2 separate regions of the Homo sapiens genome follow, and region 2 is linked to region 1. Evidence: fine-mapped expression QTL. Tissue or cell type: whole blood. Region 1 holds a variant in brackets; the other region holds the start of a gene. All regions are shown on one strand. Distances are from middle to middle.

The links. PIP is the estimated chance that this variant, and not a neighbour inherited with it, causes the effect.
Region 2: TMEM144 starts here. The variant in region 1 is fine-mapped to the expression of TMEM144 in whole blood (TOPMed, PIP 0.90).

The regions. Positions count from the first base shown.
Region 1 is chr4:158,013,749-158,021,940 of GRCh38, reverse strand. The region is part of intron 1 of LOC105377509 (a long non-coding RNA gene); the gene reads left to right. Among named protein-coding and RNA genes, the nearest start is that of GASK1B-AS1, 150 kb to the left of the region's middle. RefSeq lists a silencer at 6,068-6,224. The variant A/G (reference allele first, on the strand shown) is at 4,631.
Region 2 is chr4:158,205,850-158,214,041 of GRCh38, reverse strand. TMEM144 (transmembrane protein 144) reads right to left here and starts at 3,556. Exons shown (of 13, transcript NM_018342.5): 1 at 3,456-3,556; 2 at 2,468-2,589; 3 at 1,266-1,434. The coding sequence starts at 1,374. RefSeq lists enhancers at 3,624-3,713, 3,614-4,168.

The DNA of each region.
Region 1 (8,192 bases):
GAGCCAATGCGCCCAACCATACTGATCATTAGGTGTTTATTGGTAGAATACATCTCCTTGTTTATTACATGAAGCATGTGGGCACTCCAACAAGTCGCAGCATTTGGTATAATATATAAACAATAAGTAATTGTTAAATAAATAAATGCCTGGGATTGAATCTTCTTTCTACCATTCTTAGTTGTATGATGTTTCTCTTCGTTTCCTCATCTGTACAAACGGTGCTGATAGTAACAGTTTCTACCCATTAGAATGGATTAAACATGATAATACAGGTAAAGCACTTAAGAAGGTGCCAATGCATGTTAATAGTAAGCCCTGCCTTTAGTCACCCACCTCTCACCAACATGTCCAAAGATAGCTCCTACACTCTTGGCCACACCACCAGACTCTAACTAGAGCCGTGATTGACCTTCTTAACCTTGATTGACTTTGTATAGGAAAACTTAGGGGGCTTTCAAAAAATACTGACATCTAGGTTCCCACTCCTAGTGAGTTTGATTTAATTGGGTTAGGGTTTGACCTGAGCATAGAGATTTATAAAGGCTCCGCAGGTAATCCTAAAGTGCAGCTAAAGCTGAAGAAAAACTGGACTGGATGTGATCAACAGGGCTTGTCTACCTCTAAATCTTATAGCTTTTCCTCAGAGTATCTAGAAATCAGCAATAATATATCAAAATCACTCCTCTTAGATTTACAACTCTTTTTACGCTAGATGAAATCCAGATAGGTTATATCTTTATAATGTTAACATATTTTTAGTTCTGGATTAATGCCTCTTTGGCCCAGGGTGTGTGAGTTGTTAAATTCGTTCCTATCATTTTAGTGTTATCTTTGTGAGGAATGAACATACTGATTAATATTACATTTTACAAAGTGGCATATTTTCAAAGCTTCTTTGTAGAGACTACTGCTTTGACTTAATATCAAGGAATAGAATGGCTAACGTTCTCTGAATAGGCATTTGTTTTGCTGTAAGAATTCCTTAAGCATGATGTCGGCGACTGACAAGATGAAAAATGGTTCTGTGATTCATTTCCAGCCTCAGGCTTATAGAACCACTTAAATATTTTGAGATGTCCTCCTACATCCTGAAATTGTACTAAATCAGAACTGAAAGGATCTCAACAGTCTGAGATTGATCCAAGGGTTAAAATATCATACTCTATTTCTTTTCCATAATACAGTAATGCTATGAAAATAAAGTTTACAAAGAAAGATTAAATATGATTAACAGGCAAATTTGAGCTTGAAACTTACTATCATATTCTGTTATAATTTGTCTGAACAAGTTAAAAAAATGTTACATGCCCCTCACATACTCCTAATCATCAGATGCTCCTAATGAAACAACATATAAATGGATTCTTGAAAGCATTCACAATTCCAGACCATTTTGAGCCAGTCATTAAAATCTTTTGTTCTCTTAATGCCTTGTAAAGTTATTCTCAAGCAATGTTCCAGCTGACTATGACTCATAGTCAGGGGACCAGGCCAATGGAACTTAGCATGAAGTGCTTTATGTGGTATAAAGAGGCTTCTACTGTATTTCAATGTATGGACTTTGAAAGTAACACACAGTAAAGCCAGATGGTAAACACATGTTGACCCCATTCAGAAAACACAGTCCTAAGATTCAACATAAGCTCTGCATCAAGAAAGAATGCAAGGTTGTTAAAGAATAACAGACTCTCACTGAAATAGATAAACAATAGTATAAGGGCCTATAAAAATAATTCAACTGAAATACTTCCTTGTTGGTTTTAGCAAAAAGAGAGTATCCTTGATATTTTCAGATGACTGACTATATTCATGTATCAGATTTCATTTTTAGACACAGCATCTTGACTGTAATAGTTATTATAGATTTATTCATTCCACGTATATATAGAGAGTGTCTACCGTGTGTCAGGTATTGTGATAGGAGTTGAGACTTAGTGAACAAGATTAGCATCAAACTTATTAGGAGCACTGGAGAAGCACCCAGAGGAAATGATTATATAAGATTATTATTTATATAGTTATCATGCTCATATGAAGTCCACCAAAATCTAGAATAATACGACACATATAGAACTTAATATGTGTGAGATTCTGTTCTAAATGTTTACACATAATAACTCATTTAATCTTGCAACAATCTGTGAAGTGGTTTCTACTACTATCCCACTGTAATGTGTAAGGAAAATGAAACAAAGAGGGGTTAAGTAACTTGCCTAGGATGACCCTGCTAGTAATGTCAGAGCTGGAGTTCCCTGCTTTCCAGGTAGCCTGGTGTCTGTTTTACATTTTGAGCTACATCATGAGCTAGTGATACAATTACTTGACACTAATTATACTTTACAATAAAGCATATTAATTCGAGTAATTTTAATACAGTAATCCTTTGATGTTTATTACTTGAAGGAACAGTACAGGTTAAGACAGAATAGCAAGAAAACTTGAATGATAATAAAGAGATACAAGGGAGAAAGTGTTACTTTATGTATTATGCCCTAACATTTAAAATATTTTTAGTAACCTTAATTTCATTTTTTAAATATAAAAATAATTAACACTCATAGTAGGAAATATAGAAAAGTGAAAAACCACCATACACTATCTCATTTTCAAGATGAGAATATTTTATTACTATTCTTTTTCTATATGTAAGATTCATAGAATTATAATATAGTGATTAAAATAAAATTGTATGCTACTTATTGCATACATTAGTATAATATAAACATATCTCACAGTAAAATAGTTATTTCTAAACCTTATTTTCAAAAGTAGCTCCCCATCCCATCTTTTTAGGAAAAGAGGATTATCTTTCACATTATTCCTTGATACCAAAGTTATCCAGAGTCTGATATTTATCTAAGCCAGCCTGGTGGTTTGGGAGTTCTTTAACATGTGCAGAATGATGGTCTGGAAAAACCTAAGTTATTGTTCAACAGCTGAATAAACTATCAATATCAAGAGAGCAGTGCAAATCTCTCTAAATAATTCTTTTAAAGAGGAAGCCATCTCAATGGAAATGGGTGAATATTTGTCCTTTGTAATATTATGATGCGAATTTCCAATTACTGAACCCAATGTCAGCTCCTGAACAAGTGAGATAAATGCCTTAGCTCATAGGTACTTTTGACTCCCAAGACATGTCACTCTAAAACCTCATGTTCATTTATTTCACCAACATTTAATACCACAGCACATGATTTATTTGGTATGATTCCAGTGCATTGGCAGGGAAAATAAATAATAGTTCTCTGCATATAATTATCTAGGAGACTAGGTCTTTGACAGGGGAATTACCCATTTAAAGATGGATGGCAAATGCTGCTAGTCATTGGAGAATGTCTGAAAGCCTTTTCTTGTTCCGAAATGAGTCTTTAAAGAAGGCATCTGTAGAACAAATGATTATAGAGGTCACATAGTTCAAATGACAAATTCTGCTAACAAAGCAAGGCTCCTGTGTATTACTGGGCACTTTTGCTTCTTAGGTCATGGAAAGAGAAAAATAAAGAGATAGCTAGGGAAGGAAAAGCAATTGTTCCAAAAACCACCACTATCACCAGCACCACCACCAATGATAACAATAAAATCACCAAAACAATTGCAACAAAAAGTAGATAAAGTTGAAGAGAGAGAGCAAAAGAGCAAAAAGGGAAGTGAAATGCAGAAAAAAGTACATATGGTAAGAATTATGGAGAAATTCTGCCAGTGGTACTAACTGAATAAACTGTCGAATTGATCTAATATATGGTTCAGAGGGCTGACAGCTGAATTTCAGGTATCTTCATTAGCAACTGTGCACCTTTAAAATGCGGCATATCTTTATTTTCCTGTCTTGAAATAAAACAATAGAATATCAAGAAACTCTATTTACCTATAAGGCCCTAATTAGAATGAAATGATGGGTATTAGATAATGTTCTAGACATGATTTCAAATATAAAGACCCATTATTTTTATTTATTTTATGATGAACATATTTTTGTGATATTCTCTGATCTAATTTCCATCCTTTATATCTCTGTATGATTGGTATATTTATCATAAATTTAAAAAACAGAGCTGTTTACCAATATCAAGTGAAAAGTCTCATAATAGTGAACAATTACTAACTGATTACAATACTAACCCAAGAGGTCAATGTGAACTTTCTCATATAATTCTCATAAATTTATTTGAGTTATGTGGCATTGTTATACTTTTTTTACAGCTGGGGAAACTGAGTAACGAAGCAGTTAAGTAACTTGCTCAATAGAGGAGCCATGACTTATAACCCAGGCAGTCTGATTCTGGAAGCTGTGCTCTTAACCACGACACGAAGTAAAATAAAAGTGAAAGAAAAAAAAAGCCAGGAATAAATGAGGTTTCTTCAGGCATACTTTATGATTTTTACTTAATATTTTCAACATTGATTTAACTAATATTTACCAAGCACCTTTTAGATTCGTCGTACCATGCTGCACTGTATTATTGTGATTGATGAATGATATGTGTGGTGCCTGCCACATGGAATATATAATCGAGAGAGATAATGAAATATAAATAATTTGTCAATTTTTCATTTATTGCAAACACAGATCTGGGTGTTCTGGGGCCATTTTAATTTTTACAATATAATTATTACTAAAGGTTAA[A/G]TAGCTTAGAATATATATGTATACATATACATATGTTAGTACATATACACAATATATGTACATATACAATATATACATATATTGTGTATATGTTAGTACATATACACAATATATGTACATATACAATATATACATATATTGTGTATATGTTAGTACATATACACAATATATGTACATATACAATATATACATATACGCAATATATGTACATATACAATATATACATATATTGGGTTTGTGAGTCTTCCATTCTAATGTTAACTTTCCTAAAAATGTTGACTGTGTTATTAGGCAAGTTGTAACTACTTTTTACATCAAGCATCCCATTCACCAAATGATGCTAATGCCTACTACAAATGCAGGAAAAAATGATGACATAATTTTTGGGTAGAGTTCTCAGCTCTGTGGTAGGGCAAGAAAAACAAAAACCTTCATTGTCCACCTTGAATAATTACTATACAGTGGAGACTAATCCTTGATCTCAAGTTAATAACGGGAAGCTATCTGAAGGTGCTTGCTTTGAAAGATTACAGGCTTAAGCAGATATAGGGGGATCATAAATAGCAGACATATTGTGAAATAAAATTTTACTCCAGGAGTACTAAGAATGTTTTTATAAGGATGTTGAAATAATGGGTTGAAACCATGGAGACTGAGTTAGGCATTGGATGAGCTGTTTCCACATTGTGCCAGAGGTGAAAAGATGAAGGTGAAGAGGGAAGCTATTGAGCTGTGAGAAGGTTATAAGTAAACTAAAAAGTGGACTGAAGGATAGAGTAACTGTTTCTGGAAGGAGTTGCCTAAGCCAAAAACCTTTTCCTGGCATACCCGTAGAACATCTTGTTTTTATGCTGAAAAGAGAGTCCACATTAATGTAGTTTAGTTGTGTTTGCATCCTTGTGATTTTCTGAAGCTCATAATAAGTGTGCTAGGAATAGCTTAATTGTTGTAGTTTACATCATAAAGTAATTACCACCATCATGGTGGTCAGTAGAGATCTTCTAAGGATAAAATATGTGCTAGTGTTTTTTTCACTTTGCATCATTTTTTCTTTCTTTTGGCTATGATTTCTTGGGAATAATACAGAGACAACAAATGATGTCTTAAATTCATAGTTCTTACTCTTCTGCCAACTTTTTTTTCATATAACTATCCCCTGGTTGGAATAGGATTTTCTACCTTTGCAATATGTGTATTAAAAACCGAATTTGTGGCCGGGTGCAGTGGCTCATGCCTGTAATCCCAGCACTTTGGGAGGCTGAGGCAGGCAGATCACTTGAAGTCAGGAATTCGAGACCAGCCTGGTCAACATGGTGAAACCCCGTCTGTAATAAAAATACAAAAATTGGCCGGGCATGGTGTCATGTGCCTGTAATCCCAACTACTTGGGAAGCTGAGGCAGGAGAATAACTTGTAACTGGGAGGTGGAGGTTGCAGTGAGCTGAGATGGTGCCACTACACTCCAGCCTGGGTGACAAGAGTGAGACTCTGTCTCAAACACAAACAAACAGACAAACAAATAAATGGAATTTGTAATTGTCCAAAACATACAAACAAACAAATAAATGGAATTTGTAATTGTCCACAACAAAAATTGATGGTAGAGAATATAACCAGTTGTTATCTACTTGTAAATAGATGGTTACTTTTTTGTTCGTTCATAACATAGAAATAATGATATTATTAAAAATATCTCTTTTTTTTACTGGATATGGGCAAAGTAGTAGTCATGTATATCAGTGTGTGAGTCATGGGCAGATAGCATCAGCATTACCCACAAACCAGCCTTTTTCCAGCCCTACTGAATTAGAAACTGTTGGTAGAGTTCAGGAATAGATGGTTTAACTAGTTTCTCAGGTGGTCTTTATGAAAACGAAAGTTTGAAAAGTCCTAGTTCATGTCACTTTCATTCACATTCTCTTGGCCAGAACCCAATCATCTGACCCTAATTTCATGCAAGGCTGTGAGAGAAGCCAGTTTCCAGAGCAACTCTACCCTTCGGTACACAGAAATACCCAACTCGACCTAGTGTTTGGCAAACAACTAGCTATCTCTAGCTAGCATTAATCTTTCAGAAGAAAAGTTATGTCACAAGAAAATAAGTTTTAGAAGGTACTGGAAATGTTGTTTAATCAATAGTCAACCCAATTTTATTTATTTGTATTGCTTTATATTTAAAATATAGTGCTAATTCTCTTTTATATTTGTGGCACTTTGAAAAAAATTCAACTAAAAGCCTTGATAGAAAAAAAAGTTTCAATGAAAAGGATGTGTTCTGAGCAGAGCCAAATTTCTATTTATTTCTGCCAATTGCTAACCAAGTGGCATTGGGAAAGTTGAACCTGTTTTAAGAAATTCAAAGTAAAATAAAAGCTTTAACATTGAGGATACTTGAGGTTTGACAGTTTTATGTTTTCTAAGTTAATATTTTGGGATTATAATTAAATCCAATGATTAAATGAATATGTATTTGATTATTTTATGCTTTGCAAAGGTAGTTACTGGGGATTAAAACTTAGTCTAGTGATAGGAGAACTAGATATGTAAATAAATAAAAACAGTACATATGTGATTTTATTGTCTTTTATAAGTTTCATATGTTTCAGCTTTAAAAGCAAATCTATTAAAATAGTTAATTCACAATTTAGGACTATTTCTAGTGGTATTATGAGACAGACCATGCAGAGTTTTATTTTTTTATTTTTTTATTTTTGAGACAGTCTTGCTCTGTCACCCAGGCTGGAGTGCAGTGGCATAATCTTGGCTCACTGCAACCTCCTCATCCTGGGTTCAAGCAATTCTTCTGCCTCAGCCTCCCAAGTAACTTGGGATTACAGGCATATGCCACCACACCTGGCTAATTTTCGTTTTTTTTTTAGTAGTGATGGAGTTTCACCGTGTTGGCCAGGCTCGTCTCGAACTCCTGACCTCGAGTGATGTGCCTGCTTTGGCCTCCCAAAGTGCTGTGATTACAGGCATGAGCCATTGCACCTGGTCCCATATAGCATTTATTAATTATATGTTTTAAGTTTTTCCTCATTACTGTATAAACAATAACTATTACTGTATTCTCAGTTCCTGGAACTGTATATACTTAGTAGAATAGCATGCACTATATATTTGTTAAATTAATGAAACAAAATATTAAACCCCATGGTTTAGTTATGACTCAGAGTATCTTCCTTACCATTCCCTAGTACATTGTGGCCAACAATTTTCATGCCTTATGTATCTATCAAGCAATGTGATCTATGATAATCACCAGTGCAACTAAAGAAAAATAAAAAGAGCTTAGTGTTGTTATCTCTGAAAAATGAGTCAAGTGGTCACTCTGGTCTATGTGGATTTTTAAAGCTTTGTGCTGGTAATAAAGAAGTCCAATTTGTAAAGGAGAAAAAAACACATAGCAAAAGGAGAAGACTTCTGTTTGAGCTTGTGAATAGGCAAGAGAAATAAAATAGATTTAAATAGGAAAATTATATAGCTCTTCAATTAAAACAATAAAAGATGTTAGAGTGTCTTTTAAAAGAAATAAATGCTTAGGATAAATTCAGGTTTTTAA
Region 2 (8,192 bases), 190 kb before region 1:
AAAATAAAAAATAAAAAGAGTAGAATCACAGAGATGAAAAGAAACTTCATTTTATAAGTTGTTCACTTTACAAATGAGAAACTGAAAACAGCAGAGCTGGTAATATTTGCCCAGGATCACAAAGCTAATTGTGGAAGACTAAAAAAGCTAGATCCTCTACCCATTTTTTTGTTCTTCGGGTAGTTCCCATTCTTGTCCTAACTCCAGAGGAAAAGAGAAGAAAGGCCCTGGAGGAAAATAGGAGGTAATCCTATTTTCTAAGTGCACGAAGACAAAGAATTGGGGAAATAACACAACTGCTGTCAGGTGATAAATACTACCAAGGAAGTAATTCCCAACATGTGTTCACCATAAATCTCAATTCCTTCTCCTGGCTTTAATATGGAAGTCAGGCAAATACAAATAACTCTTGCTTCTCCTTCCCCAAAATTCACATTAGTCAGTTCTGCTATAATGTAACATGTGCATTCCTTGAAATCACTGCACTATGCAAAATCATGCAGTAAAAACTACAGAGCATAATGGGAAAATGGGGCTAGGAGAACAACACTCAACCTAATTAAAATAGTAGTACAGTTTTAACTGGTTAACTGGTTAATTACATGATGCTGTAATAAATAGGGCATTTTAATTGAAAAACACCAGAAGTTTGCTCCTGGAAGTGAGCATCCAAAGGGTTGCAGCTTACGAGTTACTGTGAAGGTATTGGGTGAGGAGTTGGGACAGGAGATGTGGTTGGGTGGAATACATCATAACCACATGTGATGAACTAAGGGAGCTGGTCGATATTTGAAGATTGTACGTGTGTCTGCGTGCATTATGTGTATTATCACACATCTTTATTCATCTAGGTGCAGTCTTCTGTGCCTATCTAGAGGTTTCTCAGGGACAAAATTGCACATAAGCAAGCCAAAAATCTGTTATGCTTACATTGTTCTCTAATATATCAATCATGTTGAAGATTCATGTTTTCAAAACAGGTGTTATAGTAGAACTGACTATAAATTTCTTCCATTCATATAATGGCCCAAGAGATTTCCTGACTGTACCCTCCCTAACTTTACCATGAAACAACCTTAATGGTTCTCCTATTCTGACTTTCAGACAAACTGGTATGAGCACTGTCAAATGACTAATTTTAAGCTCTATTCACTAGGTATCAAGATCAACATGATTTATTTTTGTAGCTATACTTTTAAAAGACCAAAAAAGGAACTTCATTTTTAAAAATAATATAACGTTAACAATCAAGGAAAAATAATTACCATCACCAGTATCAAATTTTTTAAGTGGCACAAAATTTGAGCCAAACAAAAGGATAGCTACAAAACAGGAGATGTAACCAAAGGTTAGGTCTGCTCCATTGTTGCTCATGATTCCAGTCTTAATGAGTTAGCTGGTTCACTTTAGACTTGATGTACTTTTCAGGAGCTTCTGAAATAAAAGAAAAAATGAAACAATTGAGACGTGAATCTGTGACCAAATTGTGATTAACATATTATATTTATTGAATTTTTCAAAAGCACGCTAAGACTCCTTTTTGCAGATAGGATATTACACAACTATATATAATGTTTGTACTTCATGTTAATTTATTCTATCACCAAATATTTTTGATCACTAGCCTACAATTTAAAAAGAACAAGCCCTGAAGACAAATTTTTAGTACATTACAAAAAAAATTCTCCTGTGTAGGTTCCATCACTGCAGAAAGTTTTAGCGGATAACGCTGCTAAGCTTATTTAACAGCTTTAGCTTCTCTATGAAGAAAGGACTAAAACCACAAATAACCAAGAATTAGACATTTTTTCATAAAGTTACCATTTGGAAAAGGCCACTGAATACAATTCAGATTTTTAGTTTCCCGAGATACATGAGAAAAAAGCACCACCAAAGTAATTTTATCACAGGAGGTACAGCGTCTTTCCACAATGCCATCTTGGATTCATATTTTGCACACTGGCCCTTTGGAATAAGCCCTCTGGAATAGAAGCAGAATAATCCAGTGGTTTCTTTTTTCCTGCAAATTTAATGTTATAGTAATAACTTCTTGTATATATGTATTGAATAAAGTACACCTGAAATCACCTTTCCTTGTTATTTTATTTCACAATGACAAATATTTAAAGGTCCATGTATTGTTCCTTATGTGTTCTTGCAGAGAATATTAAATATACAACAACCTACAAAATATGTTATTTACCATTATTAAAGATAGTTTAACTGAAAACAAGGATCACTTCAAAACTGGTCAATAAACTTTAGTAAAGAAAATGTGTATTTGAAATTGTGTGGACTTTCTTAAAACAAAAACACATTGCTATTAAGAAAACATCCTCTATAGGGATGTGGTTGAGGAAGACACACTGAGGCACATTTCAACATTGACACATTAACACTATTCAATAAAAATAATTATTATTCTACTGTTAGGCTCAAAGAGAGGTTCAGCCCTGCAGTGACTTACATGGGTTATGGCTCAAGGGTCAGCTGAGGCAGGTGCTTGCTGCTAAGATAACAGAGGTGCCAAGATAACAGAGGTGCAACAGGTCAGAGATGCAGGAAGTGTCTTGAAAAGCTAACCTATGACTAAAAAGACACATGACTGGGTGATAGCTAACACATCATTTTCTCCCCATTTTAATTCACAACAAGCAAAGCAAAACAAAACCTTTATGTGTACATTGATAGAAGAGAATGTCTAACCTTCAAGAGTGGCAAATTATTTTATTGAGAAGGCTCCACAAAGGCCCTACACCTCTGAAACGGAGAGACTAATTTGACGTGCTAATTAGAGTGCATGAGGTGCATTTCGACTACTGAATAAACATCAATCAGTTATTACCTATAGATAAATGAAGTTTATTGCATGCAGCTCTTGTACATTTCAGAGCATGTGATCTTATTTCATTGTGAATTGGCAATAACTTACTGTCTTTAAAAAGGCTCTACCGCTCTCTAAAATAATGAAATTTTTGTGGAAAAGAAAAGCAGTATCACTCCATCCAGCACATTTTTCCCAATTCTTCCTGCACAAAACCTAAAAAGTCTCAAACATTATTTTAATGTTTTCTTTTCAGCGTTCGCTGATATTTTGTCAAACTATATTAATTCATTTTTATTTTATTACTTTTGTTTCATTTATTAGTAAATACTTCTCCTTTACATTTTTCCTAGTAATTTAAACTTCTACGCAGACTTTGAAAAAATTCGTATTTGGTATGTTCTGATCAATACTGCTTGCTCCACTCCAACTAAAATTTCATTTTTAGTTTCATGTTGATTTTCCCAAATCTCCAGGCAAGTACCGCCTGTCTTTGGGCTAAAATTAACAGTGCTTGAATGTATTTATTCCGAGCCTTGATTTTTCTTTTTAACCATGAGCACGTTTCTGAAAAATCATGAGACGCTCCCCTGCAAAGCGACTTGGCTTTCCTTTGAGTGGCTGTACTCACTGCGTTCCGGGCTGGCGGCTGAAGCTCCTTCCTACTCAGCGCCGGCGCGATCCGCCCACTACGTGCCAGTGTGGAGCCGGAGCCTGACTCATTCCCTCTACGTGCTGGGGGCGGCCTGGCCAGCCTTTACTTTCTGCGGGGACAATTTCCCATACACCGGCCGGGAGGAGAGGGGAGGGCTCTAGCACCCGTGACCCAGACTCCCGTTCCCAGGGTGCTCGCGAAGAGCGCCAATCCAGCCTTGACTTCCTGCTGGGACGTTTACCTCCACTTAAGGAGGGTGGAGAAAGGAGGGCTTTAGCACCGGTGACCTAGAGGCCTTCATAGGACAGCAGGTTGGGGAACGCCTTCCTTCAGTTGCTGTGCTGGACTGAATTGTCAGGTGGCTCAAAAGGAGTCGTCAAGCCCTGGGTCGGTCAACCAGGAAACTAGAAGAGTTTTGTGTATTTCAAGAGGTGATTATTCAGGAAACTCTCAGCATGTCACCCTCTCTAAGTGTCACAGAGGGAGGTATTATTTGTGCAGTTTATGGATAAAACAAAAGTCTGAGGAATTTCACACCATTGTAAAAGATTATCTCAAGTGAATTTTTCCACTTGGTATTAAGAAATTCATCTGCACCACTGACGTCATTAACATTTCTTGTGACATTACAAGATTTCACTTGTAATCACTAATTCTTTGTAGATGCACCTAAGCCATTTATCTGTACAGGCCATTTATCTGTATTTTTTTTTTTTAAGACGGAGTCTCGCTCTCGTCCAAGCTGGAGTGCAGTGGTGCAATCTCGGCTCCCTGCAACCTCCGCCTCCTGGGTTCAAGCGATTCTCCTGCCTCAGCCTCCTGAGTAGCTGGGACTACAGGCACCCACCACCACACCTGGCTAATTTTTTTGTATTTTTAGTAGAGACGGGGTTTCACCGTGTTAGCCAGGATGGTCTCGATCTCCTGACCTCAGGTGATCCGCCCGCCTCGCCCTCCCAAAGTGAGGGAGTCCTCTCAAAAAAAAAACAAAACAAAAAAAACATCTCTTCATGTGGGTTCGCATACACCAAAGGATGCAAACTTTAAGTTGGAAAGGGGAAGTGTAGGTTCTGTGCTAGTCTGAGTTCAAAGAAGCCTTCTCTGAGGAAGTGCTATTTAACCCGAGACCATCCAGTGGTTGGTAATGGGTGTAGCATTCACAGGAAGGAGAAAACACAAGGACTGTTAAAATATGACATTTCCTAGAAGGAAGTTCTGCCTTAAACATTAATCACATCCATAGACTATCATGTCAGATGAGCAGATGGGAAGGCAAAATAACATTTCATTTAAAGAATTAAAGCAGCAAAGCTTTTTCACTTAAGGAAGAGGATTAATTTAGCAGTTCAGAAAGATTTTGAAGAAATCAGTTCCCCTTTCCACACATGCACACCTAAGACACACACACATACACAAACTTGCTTCCAAAAATATAGGGCCTAAATCCAACCTAGAATTGTTTCACTTCATGGTCACAAGATCATGTGGTTTATTCTTGCTTCACTCACATGGAGAAACTGAAGCTTGTGTCAGCATTTGCTGAGAATTTCTAAAGTCTAAAAGTGAGTTGGGGGCTGAATTAGGCCTGAGAAGATTCATTAGGGATATGCTAGGCCATTGCCTTTTACATTATGCCACAGAGCAAATCCAAACATGCATGACTCTATTCTTAAACTAAAATTTTTCTTTCAAATTGTTTCGTATACATGAATGCCTAAACAGAATGGTCTGTATTGGGAGAGTCCTGGCAGACACTAGAAGATCCAGGTTCTGACTTTAGCTTCGTCTGTTAGCAATATTTCTCATGGAAACTCATTTAATCTCTTTAAACCTTAGTTTTCTTATATGTAAAATGATAATAATAAGACCTGTGCACCTCCCCCTTTTATGTGGTCAAAAGAGATATATATATATATATATATATATATATATATATATATATATATATATATATAACATTATTACTAGGACTTCTGGTTTCTGCTCTGACATTTGAAAGGTGTGAAAGTCTCCACTTCCATCATCACAACAAGAAAAAAATGAGCAAATCAAAAATCAACTACTCTTTTTAGATCTGCAGAGAATTGATGTCATAGGACATGCCACCTCTTTGCAAACTGAAGAAATAGGTGAATACGGAGAATTACAGCTTATCAGGACAGCAAAAGCCACTGGAGCCAGTAAAGGATAGGGGGGCATTTATACAGTATTTGGCCTATTGCTGAAGGCTGAGTGTGGACTAACTTGAGAGTTGAAAACTCAGAGACAGTGGGAGTCATTCATATGGGAGCATCCACACATTAATGAGTTTTACTTTCAGAAGACAGGACAAAAGTTTCCTCTTTTTTCTGGCATGTGGGAGGAAAACAATAACTATTTGAAATATACTCAGAAACAAAAGCCTGTCCTCAAGGTAAACTTTACCCCAGAGCTTTATCTGAATTAGAGAAAAGGCAACTAGACAGTTTGAACACCTTCTACACTTTCTTTCTCACATAAGGAGAAAAACAAAAGAAGAAACCCTTATGAAGTTCACAGCTCAGGGATTCTGGACAACTAGAAAACAGAGTTTTAGATGTTGGCAAAGATACAGAGAAAAGGGAATGCGTATATACTGTTAATGACAATGTAAACTAGTAAAACCCCTACGGAAAACAGTATGGGGATTTCTCAAATAACTGAAAATAGAAGTACCATTTGGCCCAGCAATCCCACTATTGGGTATCTACTTGAAGGAAAAGAAATTGTTATAATCAATGACACTGGCACTCATATATTTATTGGGGTACTATTCACAATTAGGAATCATCCTAAGTGTCCATCAGTAGTTGATTGGATAAAGAAGATGTGGTATATATAAACTATGGAATATTACGCAGCCATAAAAAGGAGTGAAATCATGTCCTTTGCAGCAACATGAATGGAGCTAGAGGCCATTATCCTAAGTGAAATAACTCAGACAGAAAATCAAGTACTGCATGTTCTCACTTATAAGTGGGAGCTAAACAATGGGTACACATGGACATAAAGGTAAAATAATAGATGCTAGGGACTCCAAAACAGGGAAACGTGGGAGAGGAGAGCAGATTGAAAATTATCTATTGGCTGTAATGTTTACTATTTGGGTGATGGGTTTACTAGAAGCCCAAACCTCACCATTACAGAATCTATCCATGTAGGAAACCTGCACATGTGCCTCCTGAATCTAAAATTGTTTAAAAAGAAATAAGAATTTAAAAATAGAGATTTTATCATAACATTATAGAATGTATCAACTCTCCAATATCTTACGACCACATAAATAGTGTTTTGGTATAATAACTGTGGATCACAACTAGAGAGAGTTGCAAGACACAGACTCTGCTTAAAAATGAGTCTCTAGGAAAACCCAAAGACAACAAATAGGGGAGACAAAAAGAAAGATATTAGAGAAAATAGAAGCCTCTGATACTTACAGCTACAACAACCATTAAGCACAGTCTAACTTCTGGCCCAATACACATAAAAACTAAAGGTCTACTTATCTTGTTTTCTATTATCTGATACATCATGCCTCACTTTCAATGAACAATTATAAGGCATGCTAAAAGGCAAGAAAAAACACAGCTCTGAAATGTCAAAGCAAGCCTCAGAACCAGATTCAGATATGGCAGGGATTTGGGAATTATGAGACTGGAAATTTAAAATATGCTATGACTAATATGCTAAGAGATCAACTGGGAAAAGTGCAAGAACGAATAAACAGAAAGATGAAAACTCAAAGAATCAAAAGGAAATGTTAGAGAACAAAAAATACTACAATAGAAAAGAGAATCACTTTTGATAGCTGCAAAAGAATCAGTGAGCTTGAAGGTATGTCAGTTGAAACTTCCCAAACTTAAATGGAAACAGAAAACAGAATAGGAAAAAGAAACACAATTTCCAAGAACTGTATGAAAATTACAAAAGGCATAAAATACAGGTAATAGCAATACCAGAAGGAAAAGAAAGAAAGCAGCAGAAGATACATAAATAATAGTTATCTAGGTATCTAATAATGGTGGACAACTTTCTAAAATTAATAACAGACATCAAACCACAGATCCAGGAAGATCAGATAACACCAAGCAAGATAAATTTTAAAAAAACTACATGTAGGCATATTGTATACAAATTGTGGAAAATAAAGAGAAAATATTGAAAGGAGTCAGAGGAAAAACTATCACCTTACTTATAAGGAACAAGGATGAGAATTAATCAGACTTCTCAGACACCATGCAAGGAAAAAGAGAGTAGAGTGAAATATTTAGAGTGTTGAAAGAAAAATCCACCAACCTATAATTTGTTTCTTATTCTTAATTGATCGCATAGATAACTTCAAAATAATAATATCAGTAATATATTGGGTGATATTAGTTTATGAATAAATGAAATAAATGACAGCAATGCTTTAAGGAACAGGAGAGAGGCACTGGGAATAATCTTTTATACAGTACCTGCACTACCTGTGAAATGGTATAGTGTTATTGAAAAGTGGACTTAGTTGTAAATGTGTACTGCAAACTCTAGGACAATTTCTAAAAACATATTTTTAAGTATAATTGATATGCTAAGAGAGGAGAGAAAATAGAATCATATAAAATGCTCAATTAAAACTAGAAAAGGGAGCAAAAGAGGTATATTAGTCTATTTGCAGACTACTATAAAGATACTACCTGAGGCTGGGTAATTTAT